2 separate regions of the Homo sapiens genome follow, and region 1 is linked to region 2. The links come from fine-mapping of genetic effects on gene expression. Tissue or cell type: whole blood. Region 2 holds a variant in brackets; the other region holds the start of a gene. All regions are shown on one strand. Distances are from middle to middle.

The links. PIP is the estimated chance that this variant, and not a neighbour inherited with it, causes the effect.
Region 1: ZNF697 starts here. The variant in region 2 is fine-mapped to the expression of ZNF697 in whole blood (TOPMed, PIP 0.99).

What each region holds. Positions count from the first base shown.
Region 1 is chr1:119,644,480-119,652,585 of GRCh38, forward strand. It overlaps ZNF697 (zinc finger protein 697), which reads right to left and starts at 3,787. Exons shown (of 3, transcript NM_001080470.2): 1 at 3,212-3,787. LOC124904389 (a long non-coding RNA gene) reads left to right here and starts at 3,837. Exons shown (of 2, transcript XR_007066506.1): 1 at 3,837-3,908; 2 at 4,245-4,497. RefSeq lists silencers at 3,204-3,367, 3,665-3,724 and enhancers at 3,783-4,623, 3,795-3,864.
Region 2 is chr1:119,578,570-119,586,675 of GRCh38, forward strand. No RefSeq gene overlaps it. Among named protein-coding and RNA genes, the nearest start is that of LINC00622, 17 kb to the right of the region's middle. The variant TC/T (reference allele first, on the strand shown) is at 3,452.

The DNA.
Region 1 (8,106 bases), 66 kb after region 2:
AACTGTCAGTTTTCTCCCATGGAAAGCAAATTCTGAACAGGCTTGACAGTCAGCAGACGTAAATTCCAGTCTACACTCAGTTCAGAATCTGGGACTCCAGGCAAGCTTCTTAGCTTCTCTCCAAGCCCTAGTTTCCTCATTTTTAGAATGGAGATAACAATATGTAAGTCATCAGATTAAATAAGTCATCAGATTAGACATGTAAATCACCTAGTTTAGTAGCTGATATACAGATGTTCAATAAGTGGCGACTATTATTGTAATCACATAAAAAGAAGCATGAAAAATTGCCCAGTTCGAGATAAGTGAGGGACTACTAAATTGTAGTGTCTTTGGGGAAAATTTGAAAGTCTGATTTGTTTTCTATTTCTATATGCTACATTTTAATCCTCATAGATTGCTTGGGCTATAAAAATAAAAATGGCATGGTAAATGTCTGGCTATAGCAGGACAGTCTTCGTAGTGCTGCTTTTCCAATGAGCACTTTGCACCTTCATAATTGAATGGAAACAGTTACCTTCTTCAGTCTAGGACAATGACAAAAATTGTTGATTATTTGCTTGGGATTAATCCACTCCATATTCTGCCTGAGAGTTTAAAATGTAGGCTGGCAAATAACTTATTCAACAAACTTTTTGTGAATGTCCTTGTACTAGACACTGTGATAGGTACTTTTAGGGTCTCTTAACCCAGGAGCAAAAGGAAAAGCCTCAGTCTGACATGTCCTAGGTGCTTTATTTTCACAATTGCAATGAATCATCACAGGTCTATGAGAAAGGCTCCATCCCATTTTCTAAAGAAAAGGCAAGATAATTAAGATTTTTTTTATCCTTTCACTCCTTCTTTGATTTATTCATGTTTTCAAATCAAACATCCTTTGGGCACTTGTTAGATATTAACACCTAAAGCAGGTGTCATTGAAATAATACAAATTACCAAGGGGTAAGATTAATTTTGACTGTAAAGTTTGGGAAGAGTTCTGTAAGGGAGCTAATCAGCTGGGCCAGGATATGTACAAAAATAATTAGGGACAGGTACAGGGATGTCCAGCAAGCATGGGGTTCAACCGGACAGTCACGGAGGTAGAAGAATGTCTGTTGCATCTTCAAGGACTGGGGAGCTATTTGCTCGAAGGATGGGTAGGTAAATTGGGGTGGCACAGGTCCAGTAAAGGAGAGGGGTAGGTAGGCACTGAATTGTGAAGAATTTTAAATCCCAAAGTAAGGAGTTACTTTTGTTGATTATATTAACTCTACATAGTGTGTGGTACTGAGAAACCTGTTAAGGGGCAGGTGAAAGAAAAGAAAAAAGAAGTAGAATCTTAGATACAAAGAAAAGCCCATATGGTACTGACATAGGTTCAAGCTCCAGACCTCTTACTGACACTGTAGCTATTTTTTTCTTTCTACATAAGCAGACAAGCTCCTTCTTGCCTTAGTTTATCATCCTTACAACCAACCTTTACCCTTTCTCCTTCCCTTCACAGGACACTAGTAATTAGGCAAAAAATGTAGATTCTGAGGAAATTCAAAGAGTTTTGGTGGGGGAGGGAGAGGAAATGTGATGCAACTCCATGAGCCTTAGTCATGCTGCTGATGTGAGGTCACTATTTACCACTTCAATCCAGCCGCATCAATCCAGCCGGTTCTTCTGTCTGACTAGCATCCATTTACCCCTCTATCCCAGTAGTTCTGAAAAGCCATCTATGTGTTCCTTTGTGTAATGTAAAGGGCAGCCTGACTTCATATTTATGATCTTGTTCAATAGGATGCCATCTTATTCTCTGTTGGGCATGGCTGAACTTTTGACATCAACTTTCCCTTAACAACAACCCCCACTTCCAACACACACACACACACACACACACACACACACACACACACACGGCCAATATGTTCTAACTAGAAATCATCTAAATTCACAGAGCCTCTTCCCTTCACTTCATTATCCTCATGGCCTCATCCTAAACAACTCGGTTTTTTTTCTCGATTCCATTCTTTATCTCAGTTCAAATGCCTCATCTCTCCCAAAGAAGCTAAGGAAGAAATGTTTTGTTTCACCTCGAAAGCCATTTATATCAGGCTCAGGGCTCTCTCCATGTCCTACAGCATCATTCTTTCGACCATGAGCCTTGCATACTCCTGCCTGGCCATATAAGTGGCATTCTTAAAGGTTCATTTGGTTCCTCAAACGTATTCCACATTAAATAATATCCACATGTTGGCTTGTTGAGAGAAGAAGGTAAACAGTTGGGGGCATCAACAAAAAATCAGGTGAGGGGAGAAAGGAGAGATAGTGAGTGTGGCCCCTTAGGCATGCTGAGTTCAGTTACAACAGTCACACTTGGACTGTATTCAAAGTTGCCCACTCATCCACCACAGCTACTCAAAGACATTTAACTCGCTAGCCATTATCCAACCGCATTTACCAGACGCTCAGTCTTGAGGGAGGAGGGTAACGCAGTAGGGGATGCGGAGTATTGGTGTCATCCTACAGGTTAAGGACAAACATGCCCACTACAAGGACAGGGATACATCACCAACTTCAATTCAGCCCAGGGTTCATGTAGTAAGGGGTGGGTGATTCACTCCTGTGGGGGAGGCAGGGCGGGGGCGGTTGGGGGAGGCGGTTAGGAAAAAGGAAAATCGTGGAAAGTCCCAGAGGAAGTGGTAGTCAGTTCCCGATGCATGGCCATAATGTACATTGGCCATAAGGTACACTCAGCGCCTCTGTGTCGCTGCTCCCCCTCAACCTTTTACTCACCCACTCCTCCCAACACGCGCCTCACCCGTGCCTCCATGCACAATCCTGAGCCTCGGCATCCCCGCGAGGTGCAGGTTCCAGCTTTGCCCACCACCCCACCACCTACCTACATGGACACGTGTGGTTGGAATGCCTCCCGGGGCTAGACGGCCACCCCTCTTGGGCTGCGAGCTGCTGCCCATCTCTCCACCCACCCGTCCTTATTGTGTCATTTGCCCGGTCTGATGGCAGCCCCAAAGCCGCTCATTTGAGTGGGCTAGAATGGAGAAGAGAGGAAAAGGGAGGCACACATTTCATTCACTAGGACCCAAGATGACCTGCCGCCTCTCTCCTGCCCTTCTCGGAGCCCCCCACCCTCCCTTAGCCCCAGTGGGGCTGGAGGCACGAACAGACAAGGCAAGGGGAGCGCAGTCCGTCAAGGTCCACAGCTGCACACAAAGCCCTTCACCTTCTCCTTGCCTTCCAAGCTCCTCCCTGGGCTTGGTTTCTCCGAGGGTCTCTGATGCCCCCTTCGGTGGTCGGCGGGACGGTCCTATTCCCTCTTGCATCGCTGTCTCCTCCCTCAAGTCTCAGCCTCCTCCTCCCCGCCCCTCGCCACATACCCCTGAGGGAGCTCAGTCCTGGCTTTGGGGGCGCGAGAGCACCCCATAAGCCCGGGGCCCTGCGCCCCAGGGGAGCGGACAACGGTCCACTTTACGAGGCACAACTTCGCCCAGCCGTTCCGCCACCGCACTCGAACACACACCCCATCCCCGCAGCGGTCGGGTCTGGTCCCGATCAGCCCCATCCCCGGGAGGCGGTTGAGCCCAGCCACAGCCACGCTCCTACCTGCGAGGCGGCTGGCGCGGCGAGGAGCTAGGGCACCGAGCGCCCCGGCCCGAGCCCCGCACCGCAGCGCGTCTGCCCTTGTGCGGCGGCGGCGGCTGCAGCGGCCGCTGGGTGGCCCGCTGGCTGGCTGGTTGGCTGGCTGGCTGGCTGGCTGGCTGGCTGGCTCGCTGGCTGGCTGCCCGGCTGACTCCTCACTGGGGCTTCCTGTAGGGCTGGACAAAGGACATTTCCTGGGAGGAGCGGGAGAATGTTCCCAGCATGCCTCGATTTGTAGTTCCCGGGGACTTCCTGCCACCGCAGCAGCGGGCGCCCTGGAGGTAGCTCGGGCCAGGCTAGGACTCCGGGACAGGAGGAAAGGCGCTCGCTGCTTCTCTAAGCGCTGTGGGGAAGGGAGCGGCCGGCGGGTCTTGCCCCACGCCCCGCCCCGCGGCGCTCAAGGAGCCCGCTGTCCCGGAGCACGCGAGATCCCAGCGCTGCACTCCGAGCTCGCGGCACCGGTTGCGGGCAGCCGGTGGGACGCTGCCGCTGAGCTGTCCCATGGTTCGGGAGGGCTCTGCGGTGGGAGAGGCCTTTTCTTTAAAAACTGGGAAGTTTGTGGTGGGTTCGCTTTTTAAAAATTAATCTAAAAACACAAAATCTATCTTTTAAAATAGATTTTCTTTTTGTCTTTTACGCCGTTGACATCCTGCTGGGGGCCGATTAAAGAACTTGATTGCTCACCAGGAATTCAGGTTCCTTAAGATCTTGGCGCTTCATCTTTAAAACCATACAGAGCTGATTGTTTCCAGATCCCGACCCGGTGACATTCCTCCCTCATTGTTGACCTTGTCCCAAACATCTTTTCAAGAAAAGCAATTAAATTGAGATTGAAAATAAATTACGTAAATTAAATATTAGACGTGAAAACCTGTGTGCTGCTGAATTAGGAAAGTGCTGGACTTTCTGCGTATCTTTCCTTCATTAACCTTTAGGATTCAGCTTCTTGGTCCCATAAAACAGATGTGCTGGCCACTGTATATTGAGTGTGTGTATTTCGGGAGTGGAAGGGTGAGGAGAAGAGGACATTGGCTACAAGAGAGGAACTCTACTTCCAGCCTAGCAAGAGTCTATGATGCCCTGCACATGTTTTTGTCTATTTCTGGGACCACAGACTCAGGACCCTTAGAAAATCAAGGAAGGACCACATAGAGACTAAATGACTAAAAGCTATATTCTCTCCTGGAGCATGAGCAGAAAGTAATAAACTGAACTAGGAAAGGACAAGTTCTAGGATGCTCTAGAATGTGTTTGAAAAGTAATCAGATAGAAAAGTCTCTGGGAGGCCGGGCGCGGTGGCTCACGCCTGTAATCCCAGCACTTTGGGAGGCCGAGGCGGGCGTACTACGAGGTCAGGAGATGGAGACCATCCTGGCTAATACGGTGAAACCCCGTCTCTACTAAAAAAAAAAACACCAAAAATTAGCCGGGCGTGGTGGCGGGCACCTGTAGTCCCAGCTACTCGGGAGGCTGAGGCAGGAGACTGGAATGAACCTGGGAGGCAGACCTTGCAGTGAGCTGAGATCATGTCAGTGCACTCCAGCCTGGGCAACAAAGTGAGACTCCGTCTCAAAAAAAAAAAAGAAAGAAAGAAAGAAAAGTCTCTGGGCTTGGTGGCTCATGCCTGTAATCACAGCACTTTGGGAGGCCGAAGTGGGAGGGTCACTTGAGCCCAGGAGTTCAAGACCAGCCTGGGCAACACAGTGAGACCCTGTTTCTACGAAAAGTAAAATAAAATAAATAGCGGGTGTGGTGGCGCGTACCTGTAGTCCCAGCTACTCGGTCGTTTAAGTGGAAGGGTCGTTTGAGACTGGGAGTTTGAGGCTGCAGTGAACCGTGATTGCACTCCAGCCTGGGTGACAGATTGAGACTCTGTTTCAAAAAATAAGGTCATAATTACGTGTCACTTCCACTTGTCATTTCACATTTTAAATCCATATGATTAAAACATTTGGGTGAAGGGTTTAGCTTACATTTAAGTAAAGTTTATGCTAGAGTTCTCTTTCTCTAGAGATCCTTAACCTCACGGATAAGATGGCCTGGATTAAAATGTAGAATTGATGAGAAGCATGCAGATAGGACTGTTCACCTCCCAAAAGTTCCTGTTGTATGCCCACCCTAAAGGTCCTGCTGTATGCCCACTCTGTTGACTGTCCACCTAAATTAATTGTGCTGTGATCCTTGCATTTTCTGGACCCTACAAATTACTGCTCCTTCATATTCTCAACCTGGTAACATTCCAGTGAAACTAATCTCCCCATCTCCACCCCAAAGAATTGATTATTGTTTTGCAAATCAAGTAGCCTCTAATAGTGTTCAGTCTGAAAAACATGATATACTTGCTTGTAGCATTTAACATATAACATTGCCCATTGAAACTATTTTTTGCCTTGCTTTTAATACAACACACTCTCCTCCTTCTCCTACACTTCTAACTTGAGCTCAGAATAATTGAACTTTCACTCATTATTTCACGCCATTCCAAACCTGTCCCATCCTTTTGTTTCCAATCTCAGTTATTTTGTTACTTCAACAAAGTTTTGTTTAACATTTATTCATGCTAGTCTCCATGTCTGGAGTAGACATGTAACATTCAACAGTAAGATATTTTACTGAGTAACTACCAGCTATGTCTTACCCCCAAGAAGCCCACACTCCAGTTGAAAAGACAGATGTCACAAAATTACTTCACAGTGTTTAAGGGCTATAATGCTGCCTTATACTGGGGTTCGTGTTCTGTAAAAGTGGGGCTCTTTCCATAAGCCTTCTGTTCCAGTGAGTGGCAGGAGTGGACAGGAGTGGCCAGAGGAAGGCTTGGGAGGGAGGAAATACAGACGGTAAAGAAGACATGTAGTATGTGAAATTTGGTTCTGAACAGGGTGGTAGCTGAGAAGGAAGTCGGATCAAAGGACATTCTTCTGTTTGTAGGGGTTTTATTTGTTCGGTTTTTAAGATGAGAGAGCCTTGAGGATGTTTAAATGCTGATGAGAAAAGTCTTGGAGAGAAACAAAGGGTAACAAAGAGGAACGAAAGAGGATAAGGGATTCTTATTCAACAAATACTTGTTGAATTAACTAATTCCTGCAACTTAGTGTTGAAAATGTTGAGATTGAAATGACCAAACTGCATATTCCCAGCTAAGATACGCAGAGTCTGAGACCAGAAGGAAATGGCATTTCTTTCCTCCTTGTCATATGCTCTCTCCTGCCCTTGAGGCCCTCAGGGGAAGGTGACAGACAAGTGAATGAAAGGAGAGAATGGAGGCTTCCTCCACTGTTGAAGATTAAGTCTTTTCCAAGTTGACAATAGGTTGGAAAGGCACACCACAACTTCAGGAAAGTCCAAACTTTCAAGCCTGTGGATTTTCATTTCATCTTTAAACTAAAAAAAATTTTACCCTTGCCCTTTTCTTTTTCTTCTTCACCACTTTGAGGCAAAGTAAATAATGATTCTCATCCTCATCTTTCAGAGAGTTGAGTCTGGACAGATTTGCTTACATTTTTTTAAGCTTTCAAGTATAAAATGGATGGACCTCTGTTGTTTTTCTTAACCTAGCAAGCATCCCTTTCCCTTTTTTTGGTAACAGCACCTTTGAGAAAAAACCCCATTTCCACCCTTAGGTCTTGTGGTTTAGAGAAGGGCAGAGCCCATCTTCACCTCCACTTCATTGGCAGGTAGTGATCAAGACCCGCCAATTAGCCAATTCAGTGTTGTATGAGGGATAAGCTATTAAAGGAAACAAAGCTGAGAAAAGGGGTGTGGGAAGGGATGTATGCATAAGCAAATTTTTATGACTTGTTTGATCATGCCTGAAGCCAAGGTACCCTTAGACTTTTTAGTTACATGAGCCAAAACATTCCCTTCTGGGCTTAAGCTATTTTGGGTTAAGTTCTATCTCTTGCAGCCAAAAGAGTTCTATATAGCTGGAAGTGGGATGCTGTAGTGCAGATCCTTAAATGTAAAATTGGCTGAGTTGAGAAATGGTGAAAGTAGGAAAGATCCCTCTGTGCCAGGCTAGAGAACTGGAAATTCTTGTGATATGGTAGCCAGGAAACTGAGTGAGAGGTCTCAGACCCCAGCATTTCCAGGGTGGAGTTTGAGAGGTCTTGATTGACAAATGTCAGGGTTTTAGAGAGTTTGGTCTACTTATAGTTTTTATAAATGTTCCAAAGAAAAAGCCATGCTAATGTTGAAACTGGCCTATGTAGTAGCAGAGAGGAAAAAATTACAGTGTGATTAAAAGATTCCCCTTCTACCAGTAGCCAGCAAACCCAAATGGTCTGGAGTCAGATATATTGAGCCATGCCACGTTAGAAAACTAAAATCCTCTGCCTCTTACACAGTGACAGCAAAGGCATAAGTAAAAAACTGATAATAGACTGTCTCCTGAGTCTACATCAAACTCCTCCTGCTGTGCTGTTCCTGCCAGAGGAAGGGAAGAATTAACCCCATTTTAATTGGGTGACCATATCATTTCTT
Region 2 (8,106 bases):
TGAGTGAACTCCCATTCACAATTGCTTCAAAGAGAATAAAATACCTAGGAATTCAACTTACAAGGGATGTGAAGGGCCTCTTCAAGGAAAACTACAAACCACTGCTCAACAAAATAAAAGAGGGCACAAACAAATGGAAGAATGTTCCATGCTCATGGATAGGAAAAATCAATATCATGAAAATGGCTATACTGCCCAAGGTAATTTATAGATTCAATACTATCCCCATCAAACTACCACTGACTTTCTTCAAAGAATTGGGAAAAAAATACTTTAAATTTCATATGGAACCAAAAAAGAGCCCACATAGCCAAGACAATCCTAAGCAAAAAGAACAAAGCTGGAGGCATCACGCTATCTGACTTCAAACTATACTATAAGGCTACAGTAACCAAAACAGCATGGTACTTGTACCAAAACAGACATGCAGACCAATGGAACAGAACAGAGACCTCAGAAATAACACCACACATCTACAACCATCTGATCTTTGACAAACCGGACAAAAACAAGCAATGGGGAAAGGATTCCCTATTTAACAAATGGTGCTGGGAAAACTGGCTAGCCATATGTAGAAAGCTGAAACTGGATCCTTTCCTTACACCATGTACGAAAAATAACTGAAGATGGATTAAATACTTAAATGTAAGACCTAACACCATAAAAACCCTAGAAGAAAACCTAGGCAATACCATTCAGGACATAGGCATGGGCAAAGACTTCATGACTAAAACACTAAAAGCAATGCAGCAAAAGCCAAAATTGACAAATGAGATCTAATTAAACTAAAGAGCTTCTGCACAGCAAAAGAAACTATCATCAGAGTGAACAGGCAAACTACAGAATGGGAGAAAATCTTTGCAATCTACCCATCTGACAAAGGACTAATATCCAGAGTCGACAAAGAACTTAAACAAATTTACAAGAAAACAACAAATCACCTCATGTAAAAGTAGACAAAGGATATGAACAGATACATCTCAAAAGAAGACATTTATGCAGCCAACAGACATATGAAAAAATGCTCATCATCACTGGTCATCAGAGAAATGCAAATCCAAACCACAATGAGATACCACTCATGCCAGTTAGAATGGCAATCATTAAAAAGTCAGGAAACAACAGATGCTGGAGAGGATGTGGAGAAATAGGAATGCTTTTACACTGTTGGTGGGAGTGTAAATTAGTTCAACCATTGTGGAAGACAGTGTGGCAACTCCTCAAGGATCTAGAACTAGAAATATCATTTGACCTGGCAATCCCATTACTGGGTATACACCCAAACGATTATAAATCATGCTACTATAAAGACACATGCACATGTATGTTTATTAAGGCACTATTCACAATAGCAAAGACTTGGAACCAACCCAAATGTCCGTCAATGATAGACTGGATTAAGAAAATGTGGCACATATACACCATGGAACACTATGCAGCCATAAAAAAGGATGAGTTCATGTTTTTTTGCAGGGACATGGATGAAGGTGGAAACCAACATTTTAAGCAAACTATCACAAGGACAGAAAACCAAACACTACATGTTCTCACTCATAGGTGGGAATTGAAGAACGAGAACACAGGGACACAGGGCAGGGAATATCACACACCGGGGCCTGTTGGGGGTGAGGGTCTGGGGGACAGATAGCATTAGGAGAAATACCTAATGTAAATGACAAGTTGATGGGTGCAGCAAACCAATGTGGCACATGTATACCTATGTATCAAACCTGCATGTTGTGCACATGTACCCTAGCACTTAAAGTATAATAAAAAATTAACAAATTAAAAAAAAGAAAAAAGAAAAATGCAACACCCCTCCTTCCCCAGCCACTGCACAAAATGCAAGAGCCAGCATCGCTCCAGCTCTTGTAAGGCAAACGCAACATCCATATGTTAATGCCAAATACCATAGGAACCAAAGGAAGGTGGTGGAATCAGAGACAAGACGCCTTCCCCTGGTTTTTCAGCCTGGTGAAACCCTACGCTTACGAAACCACCAGGGCAGTTTTCACAGGCAAAGGAAGGAAGAGGACATATCTCCAACAGGCAGTGAGGGGTGATCAGCGAAAGAGGCGAGGAGGCCTGATCAGTCAGCCATCTCACTAAAGAGGTACAAAGGCCTCAGAGTGTTACGGCCAACAAAATGTGCCATTCCTTCTTACAACTGAGGGTGCCAGGCAGAGCTCCTGCACCAAGCCCTGATGCACCTCACAGGATGCACCATACGGGGGCGGAAAGGCTTGGAGGGAAAAACAAGGAAGCCTAACCTGGAAGGTACTTTTGGGTCCTTTTTCTCCACCTGGGTGGCTCTGCAGGGTACCTGACAAAGGAATGAATGAAAGCAAAGGCAAGTGCTCAGCCACCGGCTTAAGGGCTAGGTATATATGAGTACAGAGAATGAAGCTGAGCTGAAGTCACTGGGAAAAGCCACAGGAGCCAGTGGAGCTTGAATGAGGCCTTGAATTCCTCAGTCCAAGCAATGGGCACAGCCCGAGCAGTGGTGCAGAGGAGGATGGAGGGGCATGAGGAGGACCTCTGCTTTCTGGAAAGCATGTACAGAGCGCAGATGAGAGAGCTCGGGTGCCAGACTAAGCCACAGACTAGATAGGCAGATTCCAAGGGCCAGGGTGGGCCCCAGAGCCTGTGATGGACTGGTGAGAACTGGCAGGAAAGTGACAAGAGGCCAACTCTTATGATGTGAAATCCCATGATTTCCAAATATTAGTGACTAACTCTAAACTTGAAAAAGCAGTGTGAAGATCTGCTCCAGGAGAGGGATGTGTGGGCTAGTGTTCCAACTGTATGTGCAATAATTTATATCTTAAAAAGTGGGTGGTGAGGTGTCAGCAGCAAATCTATTCATTCTTGGCGATAAGTCCCAAATATACATTATTATATCATACTCTCAGCTTTCCTGTATGTTTAACATAGGTTATAATTTTTTAATAAATTAAATTTGGTGGGGAACAAATATGCAAACTAAGAAAACACACTCACAGCCTGGCCCCAGGATTAAGGCCTCTGATTTTCCACTTCTGCTCCCAGTCTAGTGGTCCAGTGCGGGAGATAAAATAGGAGACGTGTTAGGTGCAGTGCACAGTAAATGTGAAGAGTGCCATAAGAAAGGAAAATGCTTCCGGGAGATCCATTCCCATAGGGGATTCATGGGGTCCTTGCATTTGGGCTAAATATCAGAAGATGGGTAGGATTTCAACAGACAGGAATGTGAGGGAAAGTATTCCAGGTGGAGACAATGGAGTCTGCAAAGACCCAAGTGGGAAAGGGGTCACTTTTAGGGAACAATGAGACCAGACCAGAGAGCACCACGCCAGGGAGAAATGGAAGATACACCTGGAAAGACATGATGGGCACACACAGGATCACCCGGGGCCACCCCTGGAGACACCCTGCCTCCTTCCTTCATTGACCTCAGAGTAGGAGTTCTGTG[TC/T]CCCATTAAAGATGACTTGGGCCGGGCACGGTGGCTCACGCCTGTAATCCTAGCAGTTTGCAATGCTGAGGTAGATGGATCACCTGAGGTCAGGAGTTCGAGACCAGCCTGGCCAACATGGCAAAAGCCTGTCTCCACTAAAAATACAAAAAAGTTAGGGGGCATGATGTTGGTGCCTGTAATCCCAGCTACTTGGGAGGCTGAGGCAGAATTGTTTGAACTCAGGAGGCAGAGGTTGCAGTGAGCTGAGATCACACCATTGTACTCCAGCCTGGGAGACAGAGCAGGACTCTGTCTCAAAAAAATAAGATAAATAAGTAAATAAATAAGTAAAACAAAGAAACAAACAAACAAAAACAACAAAAAAACCCGACGACATTCAATTACTTCACACATACTACATGCCTCATGTTCTCTCAAAAATTGGAATCTATGGGAAAAGAATGTCTCCTCCAGCAATGAATATTGATGGTGATGCTAAAAGCTGGGACGTCATTCACTCTGCAATGGGAATTGTTCAGCTGTCCCTGGAAGATTACCTTGGCAGCATGTCGTAGGATGGACTGAAAGAGATGAAGAGGATACTTCAAGATCTAGGTAAGAAATGAAGGCCTGATTTATGTGTTGGTAACAAAATGGAATACAGGGGCAAATGAGGCAGGCCTGAGGCAGAATGGCCACTAGTTTAGACAGGACTGGGTGTGGGCACAGAACTCTCATGCACCCACTTTTTCAAGACAGAAACCTGGACAGCAGCCCCCCACTCTTCCCACCTATCATTTAGTGCTACCAACTTTACCTCCACAACACCTCTTGAATGTGTCCTCTTCCTCCCTGGTAACATCATTCCTACTTGTACCTGCCACAGGCCTCCCTGTCTTGGAGAGTCACTCATGAAACCTATCCTTAGCAGTGTTGCCAGAGTTGTCTCTCCAAACTAGTCTCACCACGTCATGCCCTTCCTTAAAACCAACCACTGGGTGGAGCCCCAGGACTGTCAGGAGGAGCCTGAGAGCCTTAACATAACATAGAGGGCCTCTGAAGCCCTGGGCCCTGCCTAACACCCCAGACTAATTCTCACCAATCCCTGCCCTGTTCCCAGATTCTCCTACTTTGTGCCTCAACAATTTTCAAAAACTCAGGGCTTCCTGCTTGCAGCATGCTTTTACATCTACCTAGGCCAGTGCACGGCATTCCTTCTGCTTAGAGGGTGCCCAGCTCTCCTGCCAGCACATCCTTCCCAGCTCCTTATTCACCATCCAAAGCATCTCTTTTATAGCCTCTGTGCTTTGTGCATATCTAGTTGCACTGCCATTAATTTTTTATTTATATATCCTGTCCCCCACCCCTACACTGCCATGTCCTGAGGACAGTAACTCACCATGTCATCTCTCTGTCCCCAGTGACTGACACAAAATAGACACATGGGCTGATGGAGAGATAGATGGATGCACGGATAGAAAGATGAAACACCAACAAACTCAAATGTTAGGACGGAGAGAGGAGGGGATGGGGAGTCAGGGAGCACAATGCTTTCAATGACAAAGCAAGAGAGAATTCAAAGACAAATTTTCAGGGTGTCAATGAACCTGAAGAAGCTCGATCATCATGATGAGAGCTGGAAAAGAGATAAGCCACATAGTGGGTATGGTGCTGAGAATGAACTCATTTGTGTGATAGAAAGAGAGAGTGGGGTTGTGAGAGGCCCATGAGCAGGGAAAGGGAAAGGCTGTTGAAGGCGAAGCCCAGCTGCCAAGGTTATAAAGGGACTGGGAATTGGATCCAAAACCTGAAATGGTGCAAGGCCCAGAGCATTTTTATACTACAAAAAAAAGGAAAAACTGCTTTTGAAAAATGAATTCAGAAGAGAATCTCCCACTCTTAGTTGACTCAAGTGAGGACCACGCAACCTCTCTGTCTACATGTGCTTCTTAAGACATCAGGGGACTCTGGTGGAAAATTGAGGGGCGTTCTTTTTCTTTATCTTGGCCCAAGATCCCACCCAATGGTAATGAGCAGGGAATGGAGTCGGTGATCTGAGGCATGAAAGAGGTTCATTATGAGGAAGTGGAGAGGGAAGGCTGGATGAAAAGAAAGTGGCTTAGCCACTCTGTCCCCAAAGGCAGGGAGCACTGAGGTCAGTTGCAGACTCCAAAACAGTCAGTAATCTGTTCTGGAAACCTGAAGTTCCTTATTGAAGAGCGCAATCTTTCCTCAAGAAATGGAAGAACCAGCACTGATGCAGTCAGCCCTTCTTCCAAAACAGGTACTGGCGACAGAGAGGTGGGCGTGATATGGGTTCCGGGCCTATTGTCATCTTAGCATGAACGCTGGCCACTAAAGTAGGAATACCCTTCTCATGAGCCTGGCACTAACTCCCTCCTGCACTAGCTGGAGTCTGTCAAATCCCTGGTGTAGCTCTGAGCAGAGCAGCTCTCTGGGCACAAGGCCGGTGAGGTCACCCAGGGCCTGTGCTTGGCTTAAGGGGCTGCCATGGGACCCCACATTTCATTTTGCACTGATCCCTGTAAAATACACAGGCAGTCCTGACTGAGAGAACTTCTTTCAGCAGCAGGCAAAACACCTATTGCTGACCTAGCATGGTTAAATAGAAAAGGCTTCCTGACTCCTACAGGACAGATCAATGTCTTTGTGGAGTTCAGATTTTAGAGCAAAGAAAGTTTCATCAGGCATGGTAGGGCACACCTGTATTCCCAGCTACTGGGAGGCTGAGGGGAAAGATCACTTGAATCCAGGAATTCAACATCAGACAAGACTTCATCTCTAAAATTTTTATTAAATTGAAGTTAAAGAGGGATCTAGAGACCATTACTCCAGCTTTTAACTGTGGGTTCCTTTCCTGCTTTCATTTTACTGATGAGAAAACTGAGGCCTGGGAAGTGAGATGACCTTTCCAACGTTCACTTAGACAACTGTCTGTAATGGTGACCAATGATTTGCTACCTTTGAGGTAAAATATTTATTAAGGGAAAAAAAACTGGGATGAGAGACATTTGGAAACAGGGCAGAGGGTAGGTTTAATGAGAAGTCTGCTGTCTAAACCATCTATCTTGCCTATATAACCCAACCTCTCATCTGAACATCAGCTTGTGGACGTGGATGTTGCATAAATGGAGACAGGCAGGTGCTTCATGGTAAAGAAATGAAAGTAGTTGGGGGTGAGAGGGACTAAGGAAAGGGGTCAAGGAGGGCAAAAAACAAGCGAGTATTCTTTTGTTTTAGAAGAAGAATATTTTTGCAAATAAGAGTGAAGAGTGAAAATCCTGGGTTCTGATTTCAATTTTGTCATCGAAGTTAAGCAAATCTCTTCACCTTCCTGGGTCTGTTTTCTTTCCTACAAAATGAAGGTTATGGCTCATTTCTAAGGTCTTTTGCCAGTGACATTGGGCTGCAAAAGTGTAAGATGATTTGCATCCTCTGGCACCTGCACACTTCTGCCACTAAACTTCGTAATAACATAAGCCTCCTTGTGCTTATTTGTTTGTGTGAAGCCAAAGCTATTTGAGAAAGTGGTTTCCCAGTCATTCGTGGCTCTAGTGGCACATGGCACCTCACTGGAAAAGGGGCGTCATACCTCTCATAGGGTTGTAAAGGATCAAGAAGTGGGCCAAGTAGGAACCGATTCCCTCCTTCCCTGATATCTGATGACCACTGAACTGCAGAACTTAATGCTGACTTAAATACAGCCTTTTGTTTTGGCATTAAGCTATAGATGTTTCCCAAGAAGGTTTTAAAACTCTTAGACAATCACTAGAAATTAAAATGGGCAGGACCAATAGAGTCAGTGCCTACTGAAAAGGAATCAGAAACCCAGAAAAGTCATGCCTTGCTCAAGTCCACTGCCAGTTAATGCCAAAGCTCTGCCCTGCTCACTCCACACACAGCACACCCTCAAAGGAGGAGCAGAACTAGTTCCTTCTTTCTTCCTGTTCTCAGGAAAGGGAGGCCATGCCTTCTCACTTCCTCTTCACCCTGCCCTAGGAGCTGGAAATCCCAGAGGACAGAGTCCATATGCACTGCAACTGCCTCTCTCCTCCTTCTGGGATCCCAGGAGCTATGATACAAGACTTTAGGATGCCCCTCAGCAGCCCCTTCTCTGCAGCACTGAGCACGACCACCTTGTAACCACCTTGCTTCCTAACATTCACACAAGCCCGTGAATCTTACAAGAGCCTTCATGTTTGTCATTTTGTTTGATTTGATTTTCCCACACCTCATACCTGCATCTTTCCACTGCACAGATGAGAGCAAGATCAAGAATACCTATAGGGCTTGGTCTAGGCTGCAGCAGCATTGAACAGTGGCTGTATCAGTCCAGTGAATCTCAGGCTGTGAAGTCATGTCTGTGATTTCTACCTACTCTATTAACTTCAACACAGAAAGCAGTAGAGCTGCTTCAGGTGAAACCTTGAGGTGACCCTCATTTCAGACATTCACTAATGCTACCCCTAACAAGAGAAATGTCTAGCCAGATACTTTTCCAGCCCCTTGACAAAGTGAATTAGCTTTTCCAAGGTCACACACTGTCCCTTCCCTCACCCAACAAAGCCAGGTACAGTCGACATTGCCTGATTTGCAGCAGTGGTGGAAACTCTGACTTATAGTTGCAAAGTCCTTGGCAGAGAATCTGCTT